Homo sapiens: one gene and its partners. The protein of the gene in region 1 interacts with the protein of each later gene in a biochemical or structural test. Each region holds a gene or a part of one and is shown on either strand. Other genes may lie near its edges. The genes, in order: ATF2, MAPK9, MACROH2A1 and SMAD4.

What was found.
Region 2: of the proteins of ATF2 (region 1) and MAPK9, one has a biochemical effect on the other in vitro, tested with the Homo sapiens proteins (4 studies listed by BioGRID and IntAct, with this or other methods).
Region 3: the proteins of ATF2 (region 1) and MACROH2A1 form a complex in vitro, tested with the Homo sapiens proteins (one study listed by BioGRID and IntAct).
Region 4: the proteins of ATF2 (region 1) and SMAD4 form a complex in vitro, tested with the Homo sapiens proteins (one study listed by BioGRID).

What each region holds. Positions count from the first base shown.
Region 1 is NC_000002.12:175,116,176-175,123,203, reverse strand, and holds part of ATF2 (cyclic AMP-dependent transcription factor ATF-2), read left to right. Parts: intron 1-1,663; coding exon 1,664-1,760; intron 1,761-4,834; coding exon 4,835-4,953; intron 4,954-5,085; coding exon 5,086-5,214; intron 5,215-7,028. UniProt on the Homo sapiens protein: Transcriptional activator which regulates the transcription of various genes, including those involved in anti-apoptosis, cell growth, and DNA damage response.
Region 2 is NC_000005.10:180,247,074-180,254,101, reverse strand, and holds part of MAPK9 (mitogen-activated protein kinase 9), read left to right. Parts: intron 1-4,963; coding exon 4,964-5,129; intron 5,130-6,175; coding exon of another isoform or gene 6,176-6,247; intron 6,248-6,373; coding exon of another isoform or gene 6,374-6,402; exon of another isoform or gene 6,403-6,439; intron 6,440-6,591; coding exon 6,592-6,663; coding exon of another isoform or gene 6,664-6,704; exon of another isoform or gene 6,705-7,028. UniProt on the Homo sapiens protein: Serine/threonine-protein kinase involved in various processes such as cell proliferation, differentiation, migration, transformation and programmed cell death.
Region 3 is NC_000005.10:135,333,876-135,340,254, reverse strand, and holds the end of MACROH2A1 (core histone macro-H2A.1), read left to right. Parts: intron 1-679; exon of another isoform or gene 680-827; intron 828-2,241; exon of another isoform or gene 2,242-2,324; intron 2,325-5,113; coding exon 5,114-5,279; 3' UTR 5,280-5,874; downstream 5,875-6,379. UniProt on the Homo sapiens protein: Variant histone H2A which replaces conventional H2A in a subset of nucleosomes where it represses transcription. Nucleosomes wrap and compact DNA into chromatin, limiting DNA accessibility to the cellular machineries which require DNA as a template.
Region 4 is NC_000018.10:51,061,198-51,068,225, forward strand, and holds part of SMAD4 (mothers against decapentaplegic homolog 4), read left to right. Parts: intron 1-4,225; coding exon 4,226-4,409; coding exon of another isoform or gene 4,410-4,416; exon of another isoform or gene 4,417-4,548; intron 4,549-5,821; coding exon 5,822-5,990; intron 5,991-7,028. UniProt on the Homo sapiens protein: In muscle physiology, plays a central role in the balance between atrophy and hypertrophy. When recruited by MSTN, promotes atrophy response via phosphorylated SMAD2/4.

The DNA of each region.
Region 1 (7,028 bases):
CAAAAGTACCACTGTTTCTTATTTCTCCAAAATTGGGGGAGATTCTTATAATGATAAAGTAATAGGAAGACAGTACCTGGGTGGGGAAAAGTTTGATTGTGGTCCTACTGCCTATAGTTGCTGCCCAGTAAATGTCTGAAGAGTGAATGAATATGTCAAGTAGTGGAAGTGTTGTTGCATCTGAACACTCTCCTTCAGTGGTAATACAGGCAGGTTCTGAAGAGAGGTTATAAAATAATAGTTTTCTGTTGGCATGTGAAGTAATCCAAAGACTAAGTGATAAAATGTAGCAAGATTAAATTGAAGTTGAATTCATCTTAATGAACAATGGTTTAGGGTCTTTTTTAGCCCCCTCAGATTGATCTTTAAGATTCATCTATTTTATTGTAATGAATTCATTCTTTCAGTTAGCATTTATTGAGTACTTAACTATATGCTAAGTTTGGGGGACCACGGTAGGAGCTCAGCCTACTTAAAAGGACAGACATATGAAAATATGATAGGTGCTATAACCAAGGCATTGTGCCGCACACATGAGATGATTTTCACCTCTACAGGCAGACGGATAGTGGACTGGGCCAAAGATGTTAAAATGTTAAAAATGTTTCATTCTTTTACATTGTGTTTAAGGTAACCCTAAAGCTACTATTATTAGTTGCATGAAAGGATGTAGTGAATTGGGTAGGGGAAGGAGACCACAAGAAATGGAATTCATTTTGATGGTTTGGGCAAACCAAGTTCAAGTATATATATTTTAACATCCTCACTTGTAAGGTTATAAAGAGTGAATTGAGATCTGTTAACTTAGCATTTTAAAATTATTGCTCTGAAATAACAGCTCCCTGTTTTCAGTTATAAATGTTGCTTAATGAGCATCTTCAAAAATGTTGATGTTCAGACATTGGAGATAATGCATTTATTATGTTGTAATCATAAATGTTACCTTTGGCATGCAAAACTTATCCAAGTTAGAGGTAGGAAAAAATATGATGGATAACTTTAAAAATAAAATGTTCTAAAAACAACTTTGCTCCATTTTTATGTAAGAACTCTCATGAAAAAATTATTTTGGCTACTTTAAATTTTTTTATTTTAAAATGAGCTGTTTTGTTATTGTATCGGTTGCTATTTCTTTGCTGGATTAAAACAAAGGCATTCTTTTTTATGTGGTAACATAAAAATCAGATTTATTTCTAAATTTTGTCCAGGCGTAATACTTTTATAAGAAAATTCTCTTTTAAAAAGTGGTAAGTAACCTTAAGTCTAGGTAAATATTAATACTACAGTACTTTCTTGAAAAGTCATTGAACCATGGAGTATAGTTTCTACTATGATAAGACAAATTAATGGTGGTCTATTTTTAGTATCCATAAGAAATTTATATAAAGTTTCTTTGCCTCCAATTTTATTTTTAAATGCTCTCAAATGAGTTATGTGACCTAGCAATATATCAGTATTGCTTATTCTTGAGTAATAGGTTTCTCTGTGATTGTTTGCAATCTAGTGTGCTATCTACTAACAATAACGGATTCTTTTATAGTTTAAAAACTGCTATTTCACTGTTAATGGTGGTTTTACATGTTGTGGAAATTAATTTCCTAATCATTTTACTTATTTGATCAAATTGAAAATCTTAACTATATTTTAAAACTTTTTGCCACAGCGTTTTACCAACGAGGATCATTTGGCTGTCCATAAACATAAACATGAGATGACACTGAAATTTGGTCCAGCACGTAATGACAGTGTCATTGTGGCTGGTTAGTATATGCTTTTATTAATAGCTTGTATACATATTTCACCTGGAATGTGCACAATTTTTGTGTATTCTCTGTAAATAATATAGTCTGGTGATATTCCAATGACTTCATTATAGTAAATGTTGGCAACATGTATTTTACCCATTACATTTTCATGTTTCCTTCTGACTATTCATTTCATTTTTTTGTGTGGTTTTCAAATTTATATTCCAATGTCGATTTTGTGGAAGTTCATTAGAACTCTGGGAACATTCATACCATCTACAAATTTTACATTTAACTAATAATTGAACTAACATGGTATTTAGTCAGCATTTCTTTTAGCTGTCTTGTACAACTGACTTACAAGGCTGTGTGAAGATAGAAAATGATCAAGCTTCTCCCATTGGAGAAAGAACAGTGAGCAGACTTGTTCATTAGAGTTGTTTATATTTCTTTTCAGACTAAACATTTGTATTAGTAAAATATTCTCAGTAAGGAGGCTCTAAATTCAGTCAATGCAGTTTTTGTGTGTTGACACTATGAACGTACAGTATCACCTAAGCAGATGATTATTTTTCACTGTATGTGAAAAGAAAAACCCAGTTCATACATTGGTTGATTGTCATTCCATGCTGTATTAGCTGCCTTTTTTTGGTATTTAAATATATACACACACACATCTATGTATATATACATATATGTCATGTATAATTTTGCTACTTTTTTGTATATTTTATAAGTATTATGATAAAACAAAACTATATAAATTTCAGATCCTTTGTGTCATCACAGATTTACATATCATAAATATTCAGATTAACTCCAGATTTTTCTTTTCTCTTGTAAAGCTTGTTATATGTCATATAAGTCTGGAATTACACCCAAATACTGTAATACTTTTAAATTATTAATCAGTATAGAGACCAAATTGTTCTATGCAGTGTTTTGGATAGATAATAAAGCAAATATTCGGTGGTTTTCCCTCTACTTACAGTATTGAAATTTTTGTAATGAAGAAATTGAAGGTAACAAAGTTAATTTATCGAAAACAATATACGTAGGAAAAATGTAGGGGAACTTCCAACATATCCTAACTAAGTTCCATAAGTAACTTAGAGATATGTTACTTATACAGAAGAGTGAGATAATGCTTTTTTTTTTTTGGAGTATTTTACATTAGACATTAAGAGCTAGAACCAAAGGAACCAAACAAGCAAAATAGTAACAACCTCGAAAGTTCACTCTCCTAGGCATGAAGCTCTTTGTTTCTCTGAAACTTTCTGCCTTAGCACAATCTCTGTCTGTGTGTAACTCTTTAACTCAAATATGTTTTGAAATTGGTTTCTAGAAATTACTTTCCTGTCTGATCACATTTAATGCAGTAGAAAAATAGAGCACATTCAAACACAGTACTTGACCTTTTTTTTCACTAACATGTTGAGATGAATAGGTTAACATTACTATGCAAATAAAATGCATGATGTGTGTGGTATATTTTTGGTGATCAGTAGCCATATGCAATGTGCATGTTAAATGATTGTGCCTATGTTGACTTTTCTGAAGTCTGATGGTTCCAGTAATCATTGATAAAAGTGACTTATGCTTATGTATTTTATTTTTTTAAGATTTTCCCCTCCCTTTAATGTAAGTTAAGAGCCTTCTGATGAACTTAGATAGACAAACCCTTTGGGTGTGAACAGAAGAGTCACATTTAGATTTGACCTACTAATTTAGTCATGATGGACTTAAGCTAATACATGTACTTTACTTACTGTAATGTGATTTTTGAGATCTTTTGGGAGGTGGGAATTAAGGGATAGGCTAGAAACTAGTAAAATTATGATATAATAGAGTCCTTTTAGTAATTCTGATATTACTAACAGTGCCTGAAACAGGCCTGCATTATGTCTAGTTTTGTATTACAAGTGGGTCATTTTAGTGTGAAATATATTTGTACATAGTAAAAATACTAGTCCTCTAGGTATACATGTGGGGGGCAAAGGTAAAATAGGAAGTAATGCCCTCTGTGGGGACATAATGGTTAACAAATATGTAAATTTTAATCTTACAAAAGGAATTAGGAGTATTTTCTCTTAAACCAAGAGTCTTCCTTAGTAGAGTACTTTTACTTCACTTAGGCTAGATCCCTGCTATAGCCTGTAAAATTGGTGCTCTAAAATATATTAAATGTGAATAGAATTTGAATGTGCTACCAACTCTAATCAATATGAATAGACACCCTTGAAAATAGTAACACTAAATAGGCAGAATTTATAAGTTTCTTGCTTTTCATTCAGTGTAAATCTTACCTGGCATTTTTTGTAGCCTATACATGGACACTGAGTACCTATGTTAATGTACATAGTAGGAGTACATATTCGAGTAAAGTTGAAATGTTTCATGTTGTAAGAAAATAGAGTAGACTCTTTCTTTACTCCTTAGGAATTAAGCTAGAACATTCTGGAGGCATGTGACTCACACATATTCCTTGTACCTAGCTTGTAAAATGCATTAAATTAGAAAATTAGTTTCAGTAGATAGTGGTAAAAAGAGGGTTTGTTGTTTTAGGGCTGTTTTAACTTTTTTTTTCTTTCTTACAATATTTTTATCTACCTATTAAAGATTGTTTTATCTTAGTTTGCTTTCATAATAGAGTATGAACAGCTAGTGGAAGAACCAAGTTAAAGCAGATATACATGCTCTTATCCTAGTTTTCCCCAAATTTCATTTATTTAAATAATTGTAGTTTTTAATAATGTAAATTTAAAAAATTCTTTATACTGTGTTAGATAATAATAGTTTATCTCTTGAGTAGAGGATGTTTATGCCATTCTACTCAGAAAGAAGCAGTGGACTAAGGAGCAAAAAGGACTTCTTTCCTACTTTCATATTTCATAGTTCTTAAAGTTGGAGGAAATACGAAGTACAACAAAAATTTAACCAAATTTTGTTTGTTTTAAAGGAAGAGGTCTTTCCAAAGAGAGAATTAACAACTGACTGAACCAGTCCTGCTAATTTGTTAACTTAGTAGCTATATTTTAGAGTCTTAACATATTTAAATATGCATGATTACTTCTTGACATTTATTTCAGATCAGACCCCAACACCAACAAGATTCTTGAAAAACTGTGAAGAAGTGGGTTTGTTTAATGAGTTGGCGAGTCCATTTGAGAATGAATTCAAGAAAGCTTCAGAAGATGACATTAAAAAAGTATGTTGTAACCATGAAATTTAAAAAGAGTACTTCTGACAGAAAAGTAATCATAGTTTATACTTCCTGCTTTTTAAATTTAGACACACTGTTTTTGAACTTATAACCTTTTCCTTATTATTTGAATTATAGATGCCTCTAGATTTATCCCCTCTTGCAACACCTATCATAAGAAGCAAAATTGAGGAGCCTTCTGTTGTAGAAACAACTCACCAGGATAGTCCTTTACCTCACCCAGAGTCTACTACCAGTGATGAGAAGGTTAGAAATTTTTAGAAATACAAAGTAAGGGGGAGGAACAGTACCCAAATAAAGTTTACTATTTAATCTCCATAAAATGTTAATGTATTAAATTCAGTGTCAGCTTGCAATAGTTTTATATGTGAAAGCCTGTCAATACTCAGATATTTCAGGGTAAGAAGACTGCAGCTTTTATTGTACATAGAAAAATTATAGGGGAGAACAGTCATGTTACATAAAACTTATTTTTAAAAGATATATAAATTTATAAATTTAACTTAATTTTTCTGTGTTTTGCTATTTTATATTTAGCTACTTTTATACAGTAACAGCTTAATTAAGAATCTATTCAAAAAATTATTTGAACAGTGGTTTTTTAGACTTTTACAGGATTAAGGGACTAGTTACTCATTCTCAGCAGTGGATCTTTGTTAGCGGCAATTAGGACGATGATGATACTAGCTTGAATACCCAGATAATCTGGGACCACCTGGGCTACAGTTGTGTGTTGAGTAACATTATTATGGGAACTTCTTGATCACTCTTTTGTTCACAAGCACATAGAATAAGCACATATTTATTTGGGAGTACCATGCAGGACACAGCGAAGGGCAATGGGACACATAAAGAGGCAGTGGCAATATTCTTTTTTAGATTGTTATTCTAAAACCATACTTATTAATGGACTTCTGTCATGGCAGAGGAGCTAGAAATAAGGAAATACAGAAAAAATAACTTTTTGGCTAAGAATAAATGCTTTGTTTTCTGTTTTTTTTTCTTCATTTTCTTTTTCTCATTTTAAAAGTACATTCTCATTCTTCTTCTCTAAGAATACAGAAACATGAAAAGAAAACCAAAATCACCTATTAGCACATAATTGAATAAGAATTACTATCTTGAAACATTTTTTTCTAGATATATACATTTATAGGTACAAATACATAAGTGAATAGTTAAATAGAAGGATAGATGGATATAAAGATCCTAGCTTTATTTTATATTGTGCTTTAGACCCTCAGTATTGATGAATATTTTCCCATGTCATTAGAGAGTTCCCCAAATCATACTTTTTAATGATTGTACTTTATTTTATTATATGATATGTATATGTATTATGTTATCCTGTTCTTTTTGGACATAAAGGTTGTTTCCACATTATTACAGTTATTGGAAATGCTTTTTAAATCTCTGATACAAATCTTTTTTCCTAGAGAGCATTTCATTCTTTTCACACTTAACAGTTTTTCATTGTTCGTGGCTGCTTCAGCATCTTTTAGGAGTATTCCTTCTTTCTGCATTCCCCAATCATTAGGCCCTCCTTGAGCAAGGTATACCATATGAAATTGATTTAAAAAAAAAAAAATCTGGACCTCTTCTTCTTTCTTGATTTTCTTCCTAGGTGATCTCATCCAGGCCCATAACTTTAATAAACATCTACATACTGATGACTCCCAAATTTCTATGGGCATAGGTATCTCACCAGATTGCCAGATTTATATCCAACTCCATCTTGACATTACCTTTTCTATGTCTAATAGACATCTTAAACTTAATAGGTCAAAATCAGAGTCCTTGATTCTTCCCCCAGTTTTCCCCATCTCAGTAAATTTTCTCCATCCATTTAGTTGTTCTAGCTGAGAATTTAGGGGTCATCCTTAATTTCTTCTTTCTTTTACACTGAAACTAACAGCATATTTTATCAGACCTGAATCTCATCCTCTATGTCTGTGTTCAGTGACACCACGTAAGCCCAAACCATCATCATCTTTTGTTTGGATTATTAACAGTTACCTTCTAACTTGTCTTCCTGCTTCTACCTCCAATCCATTTTCTGT
Region 2 (7,028 bases), on another chromosome or scaffold:
CCAGCTAGTCAGGAGACTGAGGCAGGAGAATTTCTTGAACCCAGGAAGCGGAGGTTGCAGTGAGCTGAGATAGTGCCATTGCACTCCAGCCTGAGCAACAAGATCGAGACTTCGTCTCAAAAAAAAAAAAAAAAAAAAGAGATTGAAGCATTAAAGGCTGACTGGAAGTACTGAGTGAATGGGTAAATTGTTAAAGAATGGGTGTCTCTTGGACCACAGGCAGCCACAGGTGTCACCTTCTGTAGGTTTTTTCTCTGGGCACCATTTAATTTCTCTGGAAAAGGCCCCTTCAGTCCCTTGGTGGAGGGATGTAAGCCTGGCTGCTGGGGTACAGGGCTGTGCTTCTCATGTGGCAGAGCGCAAACTCACCAGGCAGCCCTGTTGCAGGCAGGCCTCACCGTGCCTTCCCTGTTGGTACCCACAGGACTGTGCATGCGGCGCCTGTGGCCCTGCACCTGGAAGCTGGGCATCAGTTTCTCTGCGTGAAGGGCCAGCAGGAGTGAGGAAGGAGTGGAGCCTCACTTCTGGGATGGAGATGGGGATCTGGGACATCTACTACGTACTTGGACTTTCAATAAAATGAAAACTTCTCCAAGTGCTACCCTTGCCTCTTCTGCCTCCATAGCACCTGCATTTCACTTGCTGAGCCTTTCCTGGGTGTCGTGGCCATTTATAGAGGTTGGCATTTCCTTCGCTCAGCTAGGGCATTTGGGCGGCCCTGCAGCTTCCTGTCCCTGTAGCGTGGGGCTTTTCGTGGGCGGCTTCCGCATGCCACGGTGGGTTAGACAGGCGAGGGACTGGCCGGGAGGAGGCCTGTGCGAGAAGGAAGGGGGAGCAGCCAGAGGAGGCAGCAAATGCTAGCTGAACGTAGTGCAGTCCTGGCCCCTCAGAGGCCTGGTCCAGACTGCGGTGCAGCTCTGAGGGCCTCCGGTGTCACACAGGAACGGGCCTGCCTCAGCATCCCTGCCCGGTCGGCCCCTGGCTGACGGCTCTGTGGGAGGTGTGCCCTGGCAGGGACAGAGGGTAGGTGCAGACACCACACTGGGCCATCTGTCACTCTCACTCCTGTGGCGGGAGACCAAGGAGTGCATTTCCGTGGACCCCACAGTCCACCCTGGCCCCCTCAGCTCTACTTCTCCACATAAGTTGGGAATGGCTTTCCTGTGGCGCCCATGGTTCTCTCTTCCTCAGGGGAAATCTGGAAGACAGAGGTTAGTGGGACACCCTGTAGTCCCTGTCACTGTGGTCTCTCTGCTGGCTCTTTCCCTACCCTTTCCTGTTATTCATACCCTCAGCTCTCACATTGGCAGGCCTCTGTGGCTTGCCTGGCCTGTGTCCCAGGCCTTCATTCCTGAGCCGTCTGTGTCTGGTGGCTCTCAGTGGGCCACAGGGTCCCAGGCCACCCAGTGGCCGTCTCCCCAGTCCTCAGTGTGTAGCCGGAGCGGAGGCGCTTGGCAGGTGGAGTAACGCCCACACGAGTTCCTTGGCCTGTGAGTAAGAGTCGTCACAGTGGGAAGGCCAAATGGAAACCTGAAACTGCCCCCAAGATAGTAAATCAAAAACAAGATCACACCCTGCAGGGCCCGGGGTGGGTGGAGGAGACTAGGGCCACCATGGAAGCCTCAGGGGAGCAGAGACAGTGGTATCTTGCATCCCAGTCTAACTCGTTAGTCCAGCCCTTGAAGAAGCTGCATGGATTCTGGAGAATGACCCCAGACGGCCACAGGCTTACGGCACTGGCAGTCCTGGCCGCAGCTGCTGTGCATGTCAAGGTGCAGTTGTTGCTGGAGCAGATTAATAAGGCCTCAGGTCTGGCATGTTGATGGGGCAAATGCATCCTCCACACTGATTAGAAGAGAGGCCCAGACAGCGCCCACACTGCTGCAGGCTGGACAGCAATGTTCTCTCACAGCCTTGCTCTAAGCCTTTGCTAACGTTCCCACCCTCCCATAACATGGCCGCAAGAGACCTGGCCCAGACTTCACTTATGCCCTGACCCCTGACCCCTGACCCCACGAACCCTGCAAGTGGAGGAGCCCTGAGAGTGTTTGGGGTCTTCGGGTTTCAGTGTCTACTTAGAGCTGTGTCCATTCATCCTCAAGAGTGCCTGGCTGTTCTTACCCGGTGGGTGGCCACAGGTACCTGTGGGGAAGGACCGGCAAGGCCAGACAGTGGACACCTGTCATGATGTGCTCCTTCCTGGGATACCTCTCAAGCAGTGGGTCTGGATCCCAGAGTTGAGCGGGCAGTGGGGGAGGTCAGCACCTGCCCCACTCATGCTGCGGGTGCTGTGGGTACCCTCACTGCTGCCCACAGGGTAGCGTTGGGTTCCAGGCATTTTGGGAGCCAAGCCCCGATCCAGGCGTCACTTGGATCTGTACTTGGCATTTGTCTTCTTTGTTCTGAGTGATTTTCAAGACTTGAAGGGGCAGAACTGTCTTTCCTCTGCTGTCTTGAAATTGAAGTGAGGTGTTGGGAAGCTGCCTCAGGTTGTATTTCGGGGGTGACTAGAGAGGGTCCCAGGGTGCGGGGAGAGCACCTCCTTAGCCACCTCCCCATTGGCCACACAGAGCACCCACACAAGCTTGGGACTTTATCACCACAGTCTTCCAGCAGACGGCAGTAAAGTGTGCTTTTCCTGTTAAATTAGTATGTGATGACAGTTTTTTGACAGATGGCAGTGTCTTCAGATGAGCGTGTTTCTGGCGCACTGGGGTTCACAGAGCTGGCAGGCAGCCCGTGGAGATGGTTCCACTGCTGCGTCTGTCCTTGGTAGAACCAGGCTGTCCTTGTCTTCCTTGCTCCTGCGGCCGTGCTGTTAGTTCTGGGTGGGCTGGGCTTCAGGGCCTGCTGGCTGGGGAAGTGTGTGCATTTCACACCTCAGAAATCAGCCTCCTGGAGAGAAAGTGCCCACTGCACACCCTCTGTGGCCTGAGGAAGCGCCTGTTTCTGCTTCTCCCGCCAGCACCGAGTCTGCTTGCTTTCCATCGCTGCCAAGTGATAGACTAAAAATGGGCATTCATTTTGGGTTTTTAAAGAAGATTTTTGTGAGATTGAGCATTATTTTATCTGTTAGTAATTTATGTTCTAAAATGCCTGTTCTTGTCATACTCTTTGATTTTAAAAAAGGAAACAAGAAGCGAATTCGTTCATTTGGTCTTAGCTCCCTGACTTGGTCCTCACAGCGGAGCGTCCCTGGTTGAATGTGGGCTGCTTCTCCCTGGCTTTCCTTCATGCAGGGAGGCAGCCCGGTTTCTTCCTCTCAGGCCTTTCTGGGAACCGGGGGTGTCTGCACAGTACTCTAAGGTGGAATGGAGGGGCTGGGGGCCTCTTTTTGGGGCCAGGTAGAGATTGTGACTGCATTTTTAAACATTATATGTTTATCATTTAAATCTTACAGAATCTAGGAAGCCTAGAAACAGGTCACTTAGCAGCATGGCAGTGTAATTGTACCTGTTGTCAATGTCGAAATGGCTTCCTGCTTGCCCTGATGACAGCCCCACAGCCTTCACTGAGGCATGCCGCCTGCAACCCCCCTTGTGGCCCATCAGTTGGGGTGTCTTACAGGCAGGTGCTAGGCAGTGCTACTGAACCTGCAACTTCCTGGGTAAAGTATCCTCATGCCTTACGCCATGTCAGTGGCTTGGCAGTTTGACATTGCAGGTGCACTACTCTTGTGAAAAGAATGGGTGTGGGTTGTTTACAAGTCACAGTTTCTCAAGTGAGTTTGCAGGCCGAAGTCCCCAGGCAAAAGTCAAATTCCTAAGGCCTGAGGAAGGGGCTAGGGTGGAGGATCAGCAGGAAGAAAATCCCTTAGTTATGAGGGAAAAGGTTGCAGAAGTTGTGTTAAGGCTTTGCAAGTCAGGTGGAATATGATGCATGTCTTCATTCTGCAGACACTTCCCAAGTGTCTGCTCGCGCCAGGCGTGCTTCTGAGTGCTGAGAGCTCACACAGAGTCAGCACTGGGGAGGGAAGAGAGGTGGCAACCAGAACATGAGCAGGTGAGTTTTTGTGCCACGTACAGATGGAGACAGCAGCACCAGTGCTGGCGTGTCTTTGTGGCGAAGGTGAGAAGATTGGAGGTGGATGATCATGGAATTGCTCTTCCAAGGAGAGAAAGAGCCATGGGAAGATTCCAGGATCAGACGATTCTAGACCTGTGCTGTCCAGTATGGCAGCCACTAACCACAGGAGGCTGTGGAGCACTCAGGATGTGGCCGTGCTGCAGTTGTAAAATACATACTGGACTTCAAAGGCTCAGTACTAAAAAGAGAATGTAAAATATCTCAGTATTTTTCTTATGTTGATTACATTTTGAAATGATAATATTATGGATATATTGGGTTAAAAAAATATACTGTATGATTAAAATTAATTTCACCTATTTCTGCATGCTGTTGAGCATGGCTAGTAGAAAATGTAAATTATACACATCGTTCGCATTATATGACATTGTCTGTGGGACAGCACTGCCCTGGACTGACAGACAGCATGAGGACCTTAGCAAGAGAGAGTCAGAGTATTGGGGAACTCAAGTCCAGGCGTGGAGAGCAGGAGGGGGCCGTGTGTGCTGGACTGACAGCATGAGGACCTTAGCAAGAGAGAGTCAGAGTATTGGGGAACTCAAGTCCAGGCGTGGAGAGCGGGAGGGGGGCATGTGTGCTGGACGTGTAGATGCATGGATGGAGGGTAGATAGGACAGCCTGAGGGCCTGCGAGACCACAGAAAGGGCAAATGGGGGCCATGAAGGTTTCCACTGGGGGTAAGGGGCACCATCTGACGGCTTTAGGCTGATTTGTTTTAGTTTCAATTTGAGAGTAAGATTTTCCAAAGTTGTTCCCAAATCTCAGAGTTCAGTTCACTCCCTACACTCTCACACTGGCTTCACGACCCTCACGGATGTGAAGTAGTTTATTTAGCATGCTTCATTCATTTTACTAATTTAAGCCATTTCTTTCCTAGGATTTGAAGCCTAGCAACATTGTTGTGAAATCAGACTGCACCCTGAAGATCCTTGACTTTGGCCTGGCCCGGACAGCGTGCACTAACTTCATGATGACCCCTTACGTGGTGACACGGTACTACCGGGCGCCCGAAGTCATCCTGGGTATGGGCTACAAAGAGAACGGTGAGTATAGCCGGGGCTGGAAGAGGCTGGGATGTTTAGAAATTGCTCTAGCGGTGGTCTCGAGTTTTTTCTCTTTCCTTTGAACCATATGATATATACTGTGGGGACTGTTACACCCAGAATATAGCATGATCCAGAGATAAGAAATAATTAATTGTGTTTTTCCATTGGTTAAAATCATTCTCTTTTAAAAATTCACTTTTAAAATTGTTATTTTTGAACTTTTTAATCAGAGTTAAGCTGTCTATAGCCAAGTGTGCAAATCCTGAGTGTGCAGCTCAGCTGAGGTGAGCACACCCACAGCAGCAGCAGCTCTGGCCTCCCCATGGCCCCTCCTCGCAGCCCACGAGGCTGGCCAATCTCCTGATCTCCAGTACCATGGATCAGCTTTATTTGTTGGTCTGCATATTGTTTTTTTGAATTTGATGTAAATAGAATAACACATGTTTTCATGTAAAATTGGTGTCTTTTTACATCAAAACTTAGCTTATTCTAGCAATATCAGAGCTCTTTGAAACTTGGCTTTTAGCAAATTTGTTGAAAATAACGAAATCACGCTTACTTATTTTTAAAAAGACTGAAAGTTTGCCCGGGTCATCTGAAATGAGTTTTGCTACAGGTTCATCTTGCTGCGTTGTAGCTTGTGTTCCCACCCTGAGGGGCACAGCTTCATGTGCTTCCTGTGGAGGGGAGAGAAAACTTGATCCCCTGTTCACTTCTCCCCTCGGCCCGCCAGCAGGGCACTTAGAGGCCTCTGCTGTCTGTCTGAGGCCCCACAGATGAGGGTGGGCACCGTGGAAGTCTGGGCCCCTCTAGCAGGGCCTCACCTGCAGTCCTGCAAGCCAGCCAGCCTGTGCCGCCAGTGAGTGCTGCTGCCTTTCTGACGGGGCAGTCTAGAAAATGATCGCTCAGGAGGTGTGGTATCAACAACGCACAGAGGCTCCCGCCGGCAAGCTAGTGACGTGTACCGGGTTTGTCCTGGGAGGGGGTTTGAAGAAAAAAGATGGGGGACTCTAGCTGGTTTTTAATCCCCTGGTGTTTGGTAGTGGACATCTGGTCTGTCGGGTGCATCATGGCAGAAATGGTCCTCCATAAAGTCCTGTTCCCGGGAAGAGACTGTATCCTTCACAGGGGACCCGGTACTTGGCCATGGAGGCTGGGGTGGGCGTGTGGCCCTGAAAAGCTTTGTGTTCACAGGCACTTCTTGTTTCTGGTTTTTTGTTTGTTTGTTTGTTTGTTTTAAGCTATAAAGTATTGGACTCTTTGGCACTAAAACCCCAGATTGCTACAAACCGAAGGCTAAAATAGAGGTCAGCAATCATTCATATTGTGTAAAATGTCACCCTTAGCTAGCAATTTATTTTTCCATATTTGTGTGTTTAGTGCACTGTTAGAATTCCTTTTCCTCACTTTTGTTTTGTTCATGGCACTTCATAATTTTATCATTTCATTTTATTTTCAGTTGATATCTGGTCAGTGGGTTGCATCATGGGAGAGCTGGTGAAAGGTTGTGTGATATTCCAAGGCACTGACCGTATCCTTCCCCGCGACCTTGGCCCCGCCATGCTTTCTTAATGCCTCAGGCAGCATGACCACCTGCTTACACGAGCGCTCACGAGGACAAAGTCGTAAAATCCACTCCAGACTGTGTTCTAAGGGGGGCTTTACTGTATTTGTTAATTAGTGTCACAAGCCAAGTGGTTCAATTTCATTCTTTATTTTTAACTTGACTACCTGTGATGACTTTGAGACTTAGAGTTCAGTTAAACCGATTATATTAGCTCTTAATTTTGCCAAAAATAGCTGGACACATAGAAGAAATTATTTACTCTTTGATAAGTATATTCTGATATTTAAATGAAAATACTGTATTATTTAGTTTATTCCGTTAATTTAACT
Region 3 (6,379 bases), on another chromosome or scaffold:
AACTGAAGCATAGAGGGGTTAAGTAAATCATCTGAGGTCACTCAACTTGTACTTGGTAGAGTGAGAATTTGATCAGAAGCCCTTCGCTTCAGAGCTGTTAGGCTCATGGAACCCCTGCCTCCCATCTCCATTGGTCAGCCAGACCCCAGGTCCCACCACCTCATCCCACCATAGGACTGCCCCCTGCCTGCGTACTCTCTGTGCATAAAACACTACCTGGGAACTCCCTGACCTGCCCAAGTATAGCCATCAGCCTCTTTCCCCTCCTAAGCATTGGCCTCAGAGGTGAGATAAAAGGACAGAAACTCAAGAGACCTTTGAATGGGGGAGAATTTTTCATTTACCCAAAGCCCGGGGGCCTGGAGTGGGAGGCCACTTTGGGGCTGCCCCATCCCCTCTCTAGCTGCAGGGGGCACAGCTCAGGGGAGTGGTGGCCCCATCACCATCGCTTCTGAATGTTCTCCCTCCTGTATACCATTGCTCTCGGCTCAGGATCCTGATGACTTGGATCAAAGTGGCCTGTGGCTGGGGCAACTTCAACCTGGCAATTACTAAAAAATGGTAAAGGCCTAAGAGCAGCCCACAGCACAGTGCGAGGGGGACCTAATCTTAGCAGAAGAATGTCTATACCCTAAGTGACAGACAAAGAATACCAGAATCCACCTCTACTCCTCCCCAGCCGTCAATTGCAAGCTCGCAATCTGTCTGCTCCAGAAAAATCTCCCTGGACTCCCAGGATACAGCCTCTCCTGCTGTGACTCTCTGAGGTCCCTAATGAGCTCCTAGCCTGGATTTGCTGCATACCTGCCTGGCCCCAGCCCTGGAAGGTGAGCTCACTGAGAGCAGGGGTGCTTAGTGAAGTCCCACTCAAGGAGAGGGCTGAGAAGAGCTGGGATGTGGTCCTTGGTGCACCTAGAGTCCCTGCGTGTCCAGACAGGACCGTGGGACAAGCATCCAATGCGTACACCCCCCAGCCATTACTGAGGAGGCTGACCCAAGAGGGCATCTTGCACTGGCCCTGGGAAACTGAGGTCCAGGACTCTTGGGAAAGGCAAAGGGCATTACAGACACAACTGGAGTGAATTTAGGGAAAGCTCAGATGTCTCTTTAGTCTGCTTAAGGTCCTAGCCCTATGGTGTAGGAAACTCTTGACTCCAGAGGAACTTAAGGAACATGCCATAAACACAACCCACAGGCCAGGTCAGGGGCTGAAGAGAGAGTGGAAACAACAAACAGTGCACGCATCTCCCAGGTGGGGCTGATGGTGGCCGCAGTACTGGCAGCCTCATCATCACCACCATTGTCATCACTGCACAGACCCCTGAAACACCTAATTTCTAGTGGAGGAAATTAATGCTTAGAGAGGTTAACACCCTGGCCCAAAGCAGCTGGGATTCAAACCCAATTCTGACTCTAGAGTGGAAGCCCTTAGTCCCTCTTGCTCTGCAACATCTGATCTGAAAGATAGGCAGCACAGCTGTAGGACAGAGTGGCTGGCACAGAGGCCAGGCCAGGCAGGAATGGCTATTCAGAGGGGCCGTGGTTATGCAAGTAGCAAGTGAACCCAGCTGAGAAGCCAAAGATGCAACACCAGTGGGCATGACTGCTCCTGAAAGCAGTCAGTACTGCACTGGGGAGCCTCTATGTAGCCCCTGCTGCTGCATGCCCACGGTCACGGCCAGCAGCTCTCTGGGGTCTGAGGCCAACATTGTTAGCACCGTGTAACTGCAACGACAACAGCAGTTACCCAGTCACAGCTATCCCAGGGACGAGGGTGGAAGGGGCAGTTTTCTACTGCATGAGCCTTTTAAAAGACCCTTCAAAGCCACCTACTTTATAGACAGCTCCTCTTAACTGAAGACTCTCTGTGCCATGCCCCGGTGCTTTGCATTTTCTTGTCCCAGACTCTGATTCCATTTCACAGGATGGGGAAACAAGGCACCGAAGTGGGACCACAACTCAAATCCTGTGTGACTCCGGGAAATCCTGAGCTCTTAACCACTCTGCTTCTCTACCCTGGAGGGAGTAGGGCTGTCAGGCCACCCAAGCCTCAGAGGCAGACCTGGGTCTGACCTGCCTCAGCTGCTGCATGTGCCACCGCTGCCTCTGTCTGGAGGCTGCAGGGCTGTGTGTGGAGTGCTCTTGCAGGGCATCCACCTACACATTCCATTTTGCTACAAGCATTCTAACTGGCAGCAAGACATTTTGAGGCCCACCAGAAAACGTTAGGAAAGCCGTTACCTCCGCCATTCCTTCCTGGCAGCCTGCGCAGTCCAGAGCAGCCACAGTCCCATAGCAGGGTTTCTTCCTTAGGCTGTAGCTTCCTAGGACAGAGGGATGGATTTGTCAACAAAGGGTTGTCCTGGAAACAAATCCAGATTCATGTTCACCCACCAACAACCCTGAAATGCTTGCAAGGCCAGGGACATTCCGGTGGAACCGTCTGCTCTCTATTAACGGGACGGTAGGCAGGTGTGGGCACTGCAAGTCTAAAACATTTGATACTGACCTCTCTCCCCCACTTGCAGATCCTCAACATCTGGGTCCACCCTGCCAGCTTGGATTATAAAGTCCATGCTGGCTATTTGTAGAACAGCAGTTCTCAAAAGCTGCTAGACCTGCTGAATCAAACTGTTGTGTTTTGACAAGCTCTCCAGAATTCTGATGCAGGCTAAAGCTTGAGAACTATTGATGTAGAGGAATAGAAAAGAATATTTCCTCACTGAAAGTCACATACTCTTTTGTAAGGGTCCAAGGCAGAGGCAAGGAAAGCCTCAGGAGGGGTCTGTGTCAGAAAGCACTGGTCACAGGCAGGAGTGACTGGCACACTTTTGGTGTGTTCCAGGGAGACCCCTTGGGACCTCCCAGTCAGCATGGCATGGCATGGGCATGGGCCAGGCTACACTGTGTCTGCATCATACCACATCTCACCCAGCTTGTGTGGGATGTAGCTAACCGTTGTTGGAGACAGCTGCCTGGGCATGCAGCCCGGCTGCAGCTACAGAAGCCCTGCCCCAGGGCTAGCTCAGCTAGGCAGAACATCGGGCCACCTGACAACTGCTGTTTGCAGTAGCTCCACAGGCCCTCAGCCCAGCCCAGCTCCCTGTGCACGTGTGAGGCTGAGACAGGCAAGAGGGCACCTCACTGTAGGGACCTTGGAGCTGGCAGAGCATGGTCTTGGGATTCACATGCAAAATGCAACTTCTCACAGCTCCTCTCAGCACCCTGCAGCCCCCGTTGATCCAGGTCACATCCACAGACTGGGCTCTGCCTGCTCCAGAAGCCCTTGGCCCCTAAGTACAGGCTGCAACAGGACCGAGGATCCCAGCCCACAGTTAGAAGCAGCCTGAGCTGCTGGAAAGATGCCCCCCAAAAATGGAAGATTGAGTTTTTATCTCCTCAAGCAATTCTCAACGTGGCTCATTCCAGATAACCTGTCCTCTGTGCTCCTTGACTCCTGTGAATATAGTCAGGGCAGCTCTGCCTGGTGTGGGCCAAGATTTCAGATCTGCAAACAGCACTGGTGCCAGAGGAATGACCTGCCCACTCTCAGCAGAGCCCTTTTCTTTCACTATACATGCCGCCCTCCATCCTGGCCCACCTGTTAGTCTAGTCTAGAATCACCAGGGTCTCCCGGGAGGAAGCTGCGCAGGTCTAACACCACTCTCGTGGCCAGAGCGGCTCTGGAGCTCTGACCCCTCTCATGGGAAGAGTTGTATGCGCTGGCTGCTCTGTGGCTGAGGAGCTGCCGCCTGTGTGTGAAGGAACCCTGGGTTGCCCCCCACTAATTGCCCGCAGGCTCCTTCACATAGGCTGGGGGCACATCTCTTGTCCTCTAAGAGTGAACTCCACTCCTGAGGCATCCAGAAGCTCCTAAGTCTCCACCAGCCGGGTGAAGCCGTGTGTGGTCAAAAGCAAGTCACAAGAGGGTTTCCCCTGTGGCTGTGAAATGCACTGTGCACTGTCAACAGTGGATCGCTGAGATGTTCCAGGGCCAAGCCAGGAGGTTCAGAGTGCACAGGCATGCAGTGAGTGAAGCTAGCAGTACTACAGTAGATACCCACCTTACCACCTCTGGAAACCCCTCCACCTGGCAGCAGGTGCCTCATGTGAGGGAGAGCTCCAGCTGAAATAGGCGGGTTGGCCCAGCGCTTTGGACACCAACACGCCCACAGGCTCAGGCGGATCTGTGACTGTAGATCTGCCAATGAACAAAGAGCCTACCCATGAGAGCTGGCCCCAGACTCACCCTCAGTATCCTTAACTGTAAAATGGGACCAGTAAGGGATGTGAATCCAGGGCCACTGGCTCTAAACCCAGGTTTTCACTAGACCAGGCAAGCTGCCCATCTCCTCCGGGGTCCCCTGGGCTACCCACATGCCATGCTGACCAGGAGCAGCCTCAGGCACACCACAGAGCAGTGAGGGCCAGTCTTGCCAGTCCTGATTTCACATTTTTAAGTCCAGAGCACCTACCTCCAAAAATTGCCACGACATTTATTTGAAGTGGAAATGTGTGTGGATTCAAACACATTTGGCTTGGAAACTTGGATGATAGCCCAGAGTTGAAGAGCCCACAGCTCCCTGCGTTCTGGCCTCTGGGGTGGTACCGCTGGTGTGTGTTAGAGGGTGGATTCCTGGGCGGTGGCCCCTGGTGTGAAGGGGTAACTCTTCTGTGTGGGTGGATAGAGGTCAGTGCCTTCCCAGAGAACCTGCAGCCATCCCCTGGGGCTGACATCAAGAGCCTGGGCTATGGCTCAGGCACTGTGCTAGTCAAAGGTATCATGGAAAAAGAAAATCAGGAGCTTACACTGTACTTCGGGGGCTTAATGCACACCACAAAACACTATTCTGTTTGCTGGCTACTGCCTTCTCTAAAAGCACATAGCACATCCTTCTGCAGGTGCCAGCTCTCTGCCCAGTTGTCTGTCCCCCATCCCATCTTCTGGGCACTGGGCTTTCCCACACTGGCGTACAAGCAGACACGGGGCTCAACAGACACCGACCCAACACAAGGCAAGCTGCAGCACAGAGGGAGGTGGCCTGTAAGGTGGGGCAGGTCCTGCAGCCCCCGTGGCATCCCAGTTGCTGAGTGCTTATCTTCTCTTCTCCAGGAACGGTTTTCCAAAGCAGACAGCAGCTCAGCTGATTCTGAAGGCCATCTCCAGTTACTTCGTGTCTACAATGTCCTCTTCCATCAAAACGGTGTACTTCGTGCTTTTTGACAGCGAGAGTATAGGCATCTATGTGCAGGAAATGGCCAAGCTGGACGCCAACTAGGCTGAGCAATGACAGAACCAGCTGCACCATGTACCCCACCTTCAGTTTAAAAGAAAAAAAAAATCCCCTTCACTCCTACTGGGAGGTGGGACCCCTTTCATTTTCAGTTTTGCTCATCTAGGGAAAATAAGGCTTTGGTTTCCAGTTTAATTGTTTTTGACCTTCTAAAATGTTTTTATGTTAGCACTGATAGTTGGCATTACTGTTGTTAAGCACTGTGTTCCAGACCGTGTCTGACTTAGTGTAACCTAGGAGATTTTATAGTTTTATTTTAATGAAACCCTGATTGACGCACAGCAGTGGGGAGAACAGCGTCTTTTACCTGTCACCGAAGCCAGGAAGCCCCGTTTGTAAGCGTGTGTTGTGGTGCTTTATTGTACATCCTCCAGTGGCGTTCTTTTTACTCTAATGTTCTTTTGGTTTCCCCCCTCAGAAGAATCATGAATTTGCAACAGACCTAATTTTTGGTTACTTTTTGTCTTATTGATGGATTTGAAAATGAAAGATTTAATAAGGCAAAGCAGAATCTGTTGTCCTTAATTATATTTGCAATTTGGAATTTGTGTGAGTTGATTTAGTAAAATGTTAAACCGTTGTTGTGACTGGTGTGTTCCAGTTATTGTGCCCGTGAGTCACAGGTCTTAAGTCGGCTTCTGCAGTCCCAGGATGTGGGGGCAGGGCAGTCCATCCCCCTCAACCCCCACCCTGCTCCCACAACTCCTTGGATGCTCCACAGTGTTCACTGCAACCTGGGTGGGTGTGGGCCATCTGCTGGCCCCAGTGGTTTGTAGAGAGAATTTTTATAAAGTCTCACCTTTTGGTTCTGTGTGACCCTTGGGCCAGGGTGTTATCCCCATTCCCCGTTCCACAGATGAAGGAGGGAGTGTATCCAAAGCCGTGCAGGTGGCATGTGGCAGGCTCCAGACCCTGAGCCCAGCTCTCTCCTACCATTGTCCCCTTCTGACAGTCTGTGACTTAGGGCTGGGCCTGGCCACTTGCTGATGAAGCTGCTGGAGCCTCATTCCCTCTGCCGAGGCTGCTGGGTCTGTCATCCCTGCAGGACAGGATCCCTGGCAGAAGGGTGCGTGGAGCTTTCCAAG
Region 4 (7,028 bases), on another chromosome or scaffold:
TTTATCTTTTGTGTTACAATCTATACTCTGTTAGTTATTTTAAAGTGTACAATTAAATTATTGGCTACAGTCACCCTGTTGTGCTGTAAAATATTAGACCTTATTCATTCTAACTACTTTTTGTACTATTAACCATCCTCACCTTCCCCCAATCCCCCACTACCTTTCCCAGCCTCTGGTAACCATCCTTCTACTCTCTGTCTCTATGGGTTCAATTGTTTTGATTTTTAGATCCCACAGATAAGAACATGTGATGTTTGTCTTTCTTTGCCTGGGTTCTTTCACTTAACATAATACCTCCAGTTCTATCCATGTTGTCTCAAGTGACTGAATCGCATTTTTTTTATGGCTGAATAGTACTCCACTGTGTATAAGTCAAGCATAAAGAATTTTAAGCATACCGGAATAATACAGGAAGTTCCCCCATTGTACTCATTCCTCAGTTTCAGCCATTATCAAGTAATGACCAATCTTGTTTCATTCATACTCACTCTCTTTCTTCATTCTATATTATTTTGAAGCAAATCCTATATTAGTTTTATATGTAAATATCTTAGTATATATTTCCAGTAAAGGTTTTTAAAACATAAACACAGCGCCCATAATGATTAATTCAAAGGGTCTTAAATTCTTAAATAGGTCTACATAATTTTCTTTGTGTAAATGTTCTGTTATTGATTATGTTGGTTTAATTTTTCTTCTAGCTGTTTAAAAAAATAGAAGGGAACATCTTTGTGTTTATAACTTTTCTCATATTTTAGTTTAAGAAATTTGTAGAATTTCTAGATCAAAAGGCCATATTACAGTGACACCAGAGTGTGAGAACCAGGGTTACTGTGCTGGCTAGCAGTAGATGTCATAGTTTAATAAACTTTTTGCTGATTTAAGAGGCAAATACTTGTTCTGGTTAGGGAAAAGGTGATATTAGTGGGGCAGAAGCATTCTTTTAACGATATATATTTATTATCTTCTGTAACGGATTTTCTGTGTTACATTGTGTGTTGTGATTTTAAACATTTTTGTAGGTCAAGGGGTCTAGCCTTTTCATAAACTTTCTTTTTTTGAGAAATGTAATATACAGAAAAGTATGTAACACAAGTAAGTATATAGTCTAACATCACTAAAACCAATACTCATGTAACCACTACACAGATTGAGAACTAAAACATTATGGCATCCCAGAAACCCTCCTACCCCATGAATTTTGTCTCTGTCAAAACCTCTTTCCTTCTCCCCAGAGGTAGCTACTGTCCTGCTTTTTATGGATATCACTTTTTTTTTGCTCTTTTATTTATTTTTTAAATTTTTATTTATTTATTTTGAGATGAACTCTTGTTCTGTCACCCAGGCTAGAGTGCAGTCATGCAATTCGGCTCACTGCAACCTCCACCTCCAGGTTCAAGCCATTCTCCTGCCTCAGCCTCCCGAGTAGCTGGGATTATAGGCACCCGCCACCATGCCTGGCTAATTTTTGTATTGTTAGTAGAGATAGGGTTTCACCATGTTATCCAGGCTGGTCTTGAACTCTTGGCCTCAAGTGATCTCTGCCCCATCGGCTCCCAAAATGCTGGGATTACAGGCATGAGCCACCATGCCTGGCCCTTTTAAAGTGATGAATACATCCCTAAACAGTCTAGTAATCTGGCTTTACTTGTTTTTTTTTTTTTTTTTTTTTTTTGAGACGGAGTCTCGCTCTGTCACCCAGGCTGGAGTGCAGTGGCGCGACTTGGCTCACTGCAACCTCTGCCTCCCGGGTTCACACCATTCTGCCTCAGCCTCCCAAGTAGCTGGGACTATAGGCGCCCGCCACCACGCCCGGCTAATTTTTGTATTTTTAGTAGAGACGGGGTTTCACTATGTTGGTCAGGCTGGTCTCGAACTCCTGACCTCTTGATCTGCCCGCCTCGGCCTCCCAAAGTGCTGGGATTACAGGCGTGATCTACCGTGCCTGGCCCTCATTTTCTTTTTACCTAGCTTTATAAATACTTGTTTAAAACAATTTAACATTTGGACTGATTGTGTAAAGACCACTTTTAAGTGTTGTTACTGTTTTTTGTTGTGTTTTTTTTGGCCACCAAAACATTGGGTAATTGTTGTCTTAGACAATCTCTGTAGTTTTGGTTTAACCAGTGTACCTATCAGTTGTTTGCTGAAGCTTCTTGTCCATAGCATAATGTGATACCTTCACATTACATTTTCTATAGACAATATATATATATTTTTTTAAATTTTTGAGACGGGGTCTCACTCTGTGGCCTGGGCTGGAGTGCAGTGGCACTCTCATGGCCCACTGCAGCCCTGACCTCCCAGACTTAGGTGATTCTCCCATCTCAGCCTCCCGTGTAGCTGGGACTACAGGTGGACACAACCACGCCCAGCCAATTTTTCTATTTTTCGTAGAGACGCGGTTTCACCATGTTGCCCAGGCTGGCCTTGACCTCCTGGGCTCAAGTGATCTGCCCATCTTGGCCTCCCAAAGTGCTGGGATTATAGGCATGAGCCACCATGCCCGGCTGAAAATAATTTCATAAATACTTCAAAACTGGCTTTTTAAGAAGACACTCAGTGAAGACACTTAGTGTATCACTGGTTTTTATGTTCTAAGCATAATGAAATATATGTAAACAAATATTTATCTTTGTGACAAGTTCATTAGAGTGACATGGCAAAACATTTGAGTTTTTAAGTTTTTGAATTATCCAATCTTCATGTGATCTGTTTTGATAACTCCTCATTGCATTGGAAAGTATTTTATTGCTTGGCAGCATTTTGAAAAGTAATTAGGGTACATAGCTTTTACAAGTTGTTTTCTTTTAAAAAAATTTTAAGCATCAATCATACTTCATTTTAGGTTATTTTTTTTTTTTCCGTAAGATCTGGGTTTCTTTTTTGTCATTCTAAGTAACTTTGTTGAAAGTAAGATTGTTGAAAGTTTTATTGCTTCAAATTCTAGTTTAAAGTTCATAAACAGCTTATTGAGATACAGATAAATCTTTCTTTTAAATATGTCGAACCTATTTCCACCCTGGGGTCTTTGCTTTCGCTTCCTCTTTGAAATCTGTTCAGTCTTCACATAGATAAAAGGTTATTCAGGTCCCATCTTTTCAGATGGGATGTCCCCTACCATCCAGTCTGAAGTGTTCTTCCCAATCATCTGCTGTTCCATACCCTGTTTTATTTTCTTCACAGTGTTCATTGTTATCTGAGTTATTTCATTTGTTTGCTTATTTGTCTGCCCCTGCACCTCTGTGAGAACAGGGACTGTAGCTGTTTTGTTTTCTACTGTGTATGCAGTGCCTAGAAAGATCCCTAGATACTCTGTAGATATCTGTTAAATGAGTTAAAACAGGAAAGCCAAATAATTTTTATGTATTTGGGCTTGATGTAATAATTGTTGTTTACAAATAAAAATTAGAAATACTTGATCAGTTGTCTTTGTAAACCAGAGTAGCACCTCTTTTTTCCCAGTGATTTAAAATTATATATTATTGTTCAAATGAGTACACTAAATACATCTCCAAAGTTAAAATTGTGGTAGTTAACATGACCTGACTTCACTAAAAATACCTTTTGCTATGGCATAGGTGGGACAAATGACCTTCTACCCAAGAGACAGTTGAGAATCTGTGTGTACAACAACTGTGTGATTAGAGTATAATTAACCTTAACTCAGGGATGGGATAGCTGACTTGCTTATGCACTTTCTCTCAATTAGGGAATCTATAAAAATATGTCATGAGTCGATGTTATTCAAGGACAGTTCCCTGGAATACATCTTAGGGTCAGTGTGTTTTTAAAAAATAAAAGTTGAGACTACATAGAGAATATGTGTAGTCAAATGAAATACCATGGTAAAATAATTTATTTTAGATTCTGATTATTTCTGTTCTTTAAATTCTCAGTTGACCTGGTCCTTTGAGGTAAGAACCAAATTCCAGATTTTAAAAAATGACTTTTAGAACTTGAGGATAAGTGGTAATTGGAAATTAAAAAAAAAAATTAGTGTTTTAAGAACAGTGCTAAGTACTGAGCTAGAAAATAGAAGACATGGAAATTCCTACCTTTTAATGCATTATGTTATTTTAATCCAGTTGTTTTGGGTGCATTACATTTCCATCTCCCCTCCCTTTACCCTTTCTTTTAGGAAAAACTGTGTTGTGGAGTGCAAGTGAAAGCCTTATATCTTTCTCATGGGAGGATGTTCTTTCCCATTTATTTCCTATAGCTCCTGAGTATTGGTGTTCCATTGCTTACTTTGAAATGGATGTTCAGGTAGGAGAGACATTTAAGGTTCCTTCAAGCTGCCCTATTGTTACTGTTGATGGATACGTGGACCCTTCTGGAGGAGATCGCTTTTGTTTGGGTCAACTCTCCAATGTCCACAGGACAGAAGCCATTGAGAGAGCAAGGTATTGATTGTATAGTCAGATAGTTACTTTAAAAAATTGAGCATAGTACATTGTCTTTTATTCAAGGTTATGTTTTCCCATGTACATTATATGTGTTCTTAAATATAAATAAAGGAATAAAGGTCATGTTGAAAACTCAGAATTTGTAAGCACTCCATCTTAATTGTCGGTGTTTTTGTTGTTTAACATATAATGATAAAAGATAGCCTTTTTTATGTTAGTAGGTTTCTATGTTTCGAATAGTAAGTATACCTTTTGAAATTCAGTTTGAAAATTTTATTTTCTGTGATCATACATTTCTACAAATTACTGAAAGGAAGTAATATTAAATGAGAACATGTTTCTGAAAGTTTTACTTATAATGTTAAAAAAATTGGTAATAAAAGGGAAATGGTTAAGTAAATTATGATAAATTTTTCCTTTTTTATACAGTCATTAAAATGTTTAAAAGTTTATATAATGAGGCTGGGTGCGGTGGCTCACACCTATAATCCCAGCACTTTGGGAGGCGGAGTCAGGCAGATCACTTGAGGTCAGGAGTTCGAGACCAGCCTGGCCAACATGGTGAAACCCTGTCTCTACCAAAAATTAGCCATATGTGGTGGTGTCCACCTGTAATCCCAGCTACTCAGGAGGCTGAGACAGGAGAATTGCTTGAACCCAGGAGGTGGAGGTTGCAGTGAGCTGAGATCGTGCCACTGCACCCCAGCCTGGGTGACAGAGTGAGACTCCATTTCAAAAAAAAAAAAAAAAAAAGTTTATATAATGAAATGGAAATGCTTACAGTGAAATATTACAGGAACATTCCATTTTAGCTACTGTATGATCTCGGCTTTTAAGGATGTGTGTGCTAAAGAACATAATCTTGGCTCTATCACTTGCTGTCATGTGACTTTGGCAAATTACCTAACCTCTAAGCCATTCTGCCTAATAGAATTTTCTGTGATGAAGAAAATGATTTATATTTGCACTGTCCAGTTCGGTAGCCACTAGCCACATGTAACTATTGAGCACTTAAATTATAGCTCACTTGATTGACTAATCGGATTTCTAATTAGTTTTAATTTAATTTAAATAGTCACATGTGGCTAGTGGCTATCAATTTGGACAGTATGCCTTAGTTTCTTTATCTAAAAAAATTAGAATAATAGTACTTGTTGAGTTGTAAGGGTTTAATGAGAATTCATACTACATGCTCCTGACACATAGTAAGTGTTGTAAATATGTGCATCATTATTAGATATGAACAGGAAAAGAAAAAAGGAAATATACAAAAATGTTAATAGCTATCTTTTGGTTTTATGTGATCTTTATTTTTAATTTTTCAATATTAAGCATGCTATACAATCTGAACTAAAATTTAATTTAAAATACTTATCAAGATAAAATGTAATTTCTTTTTTCTTCCTAAGGTTGCACATAGGCAAAGGTGTGCAGTTGGAATGTAAAGGTGAAGGTGATGTTTGGGTCAGGTGCCTTAGTGACCACGCGGTCTTTGTACAGAGTTACTACTTAGACAGAGAAGCTGGGCGTGCACCTGGAGATGCTGTTCATAAGATCTACCCAAGTGCATATATAAAGGTTAGTTACAATTTTATTTGAATATTTTAGACTTAAAGCTCTATTTGTTGTCAAAAGAATTGAAATCTGGGTGGAAGGAATGGAAAAATGTTTTATATATTAAATAATAAGAAATTGTGTTTAAGTATAAAAAACACATTTTCTGAGGGCATTTATTGACATTATCAGTAATCTAGTTTTATCGTTGCCAATTTGTTACATTTTGTTTTTTATTTTATTTATTTATTTATTTATTTATTTTTGAGACAGAGTCTTGCTCTCGTCGCCCAGGCTGGAATGCAGTGGCGTGATCTCGGCTCACTGCAACCTGCGCCTCCTGGGTTCAAGCAATTCTCGTGCCTCAGCATCCCAAGTAGCTGGGATTACAGGCACATGTTACTGTGCCTGGCAATTTTTTGTATTTTTAGTAGAGACGGGGTTTCACCATGTTGGCCAGGCTGGTCTCGAACTCCTGACCTAAAGTGATCCGCCCAACTTGGCCTCCCAAAGTGCTGGGATTACAGGTGTGAACCACTGTGCCAGGCCTGTTACATGTTTTAGAGTAATACAAAGGCTCTTGAAAATACTGAGTGAAGCCTCCAAAGTTGTATTCCTGTAACTTGAAATTTGTAAGAATCAGACTCTGGACTTTCATCTTAGCCAATCTTCAGGATTTTATGGAAGAGAATTCTAAAATTAATAGCTTTTCAAATTAAGAACCTGATAAGCCTGAAATATTTTTCACTAGTTATATATTCAACCTGTTTGAATTTTACTTTATAATATAACCTGTTTTTGAAAGAGAAAGGCAGTTGTAATTAGATAGCCTAAATATATTTTTAATTGTGTGTCATCCTCAACATTTTCATTGTCAGTGATTGTAAATTGGTAGAATTAACTGTGTCTCATAACTTATTACCAGGAAGTTGCTTAGGATAAAAATAATGTAGCCCCATAGCATCCATAAAAATGGAATTGCCTGATTACCTCACAACAGCAAACCCAGTTTCTCATTTCCAGTTATAGTTCAGTTAAAGAATGTTGGAATTTTTTTATATG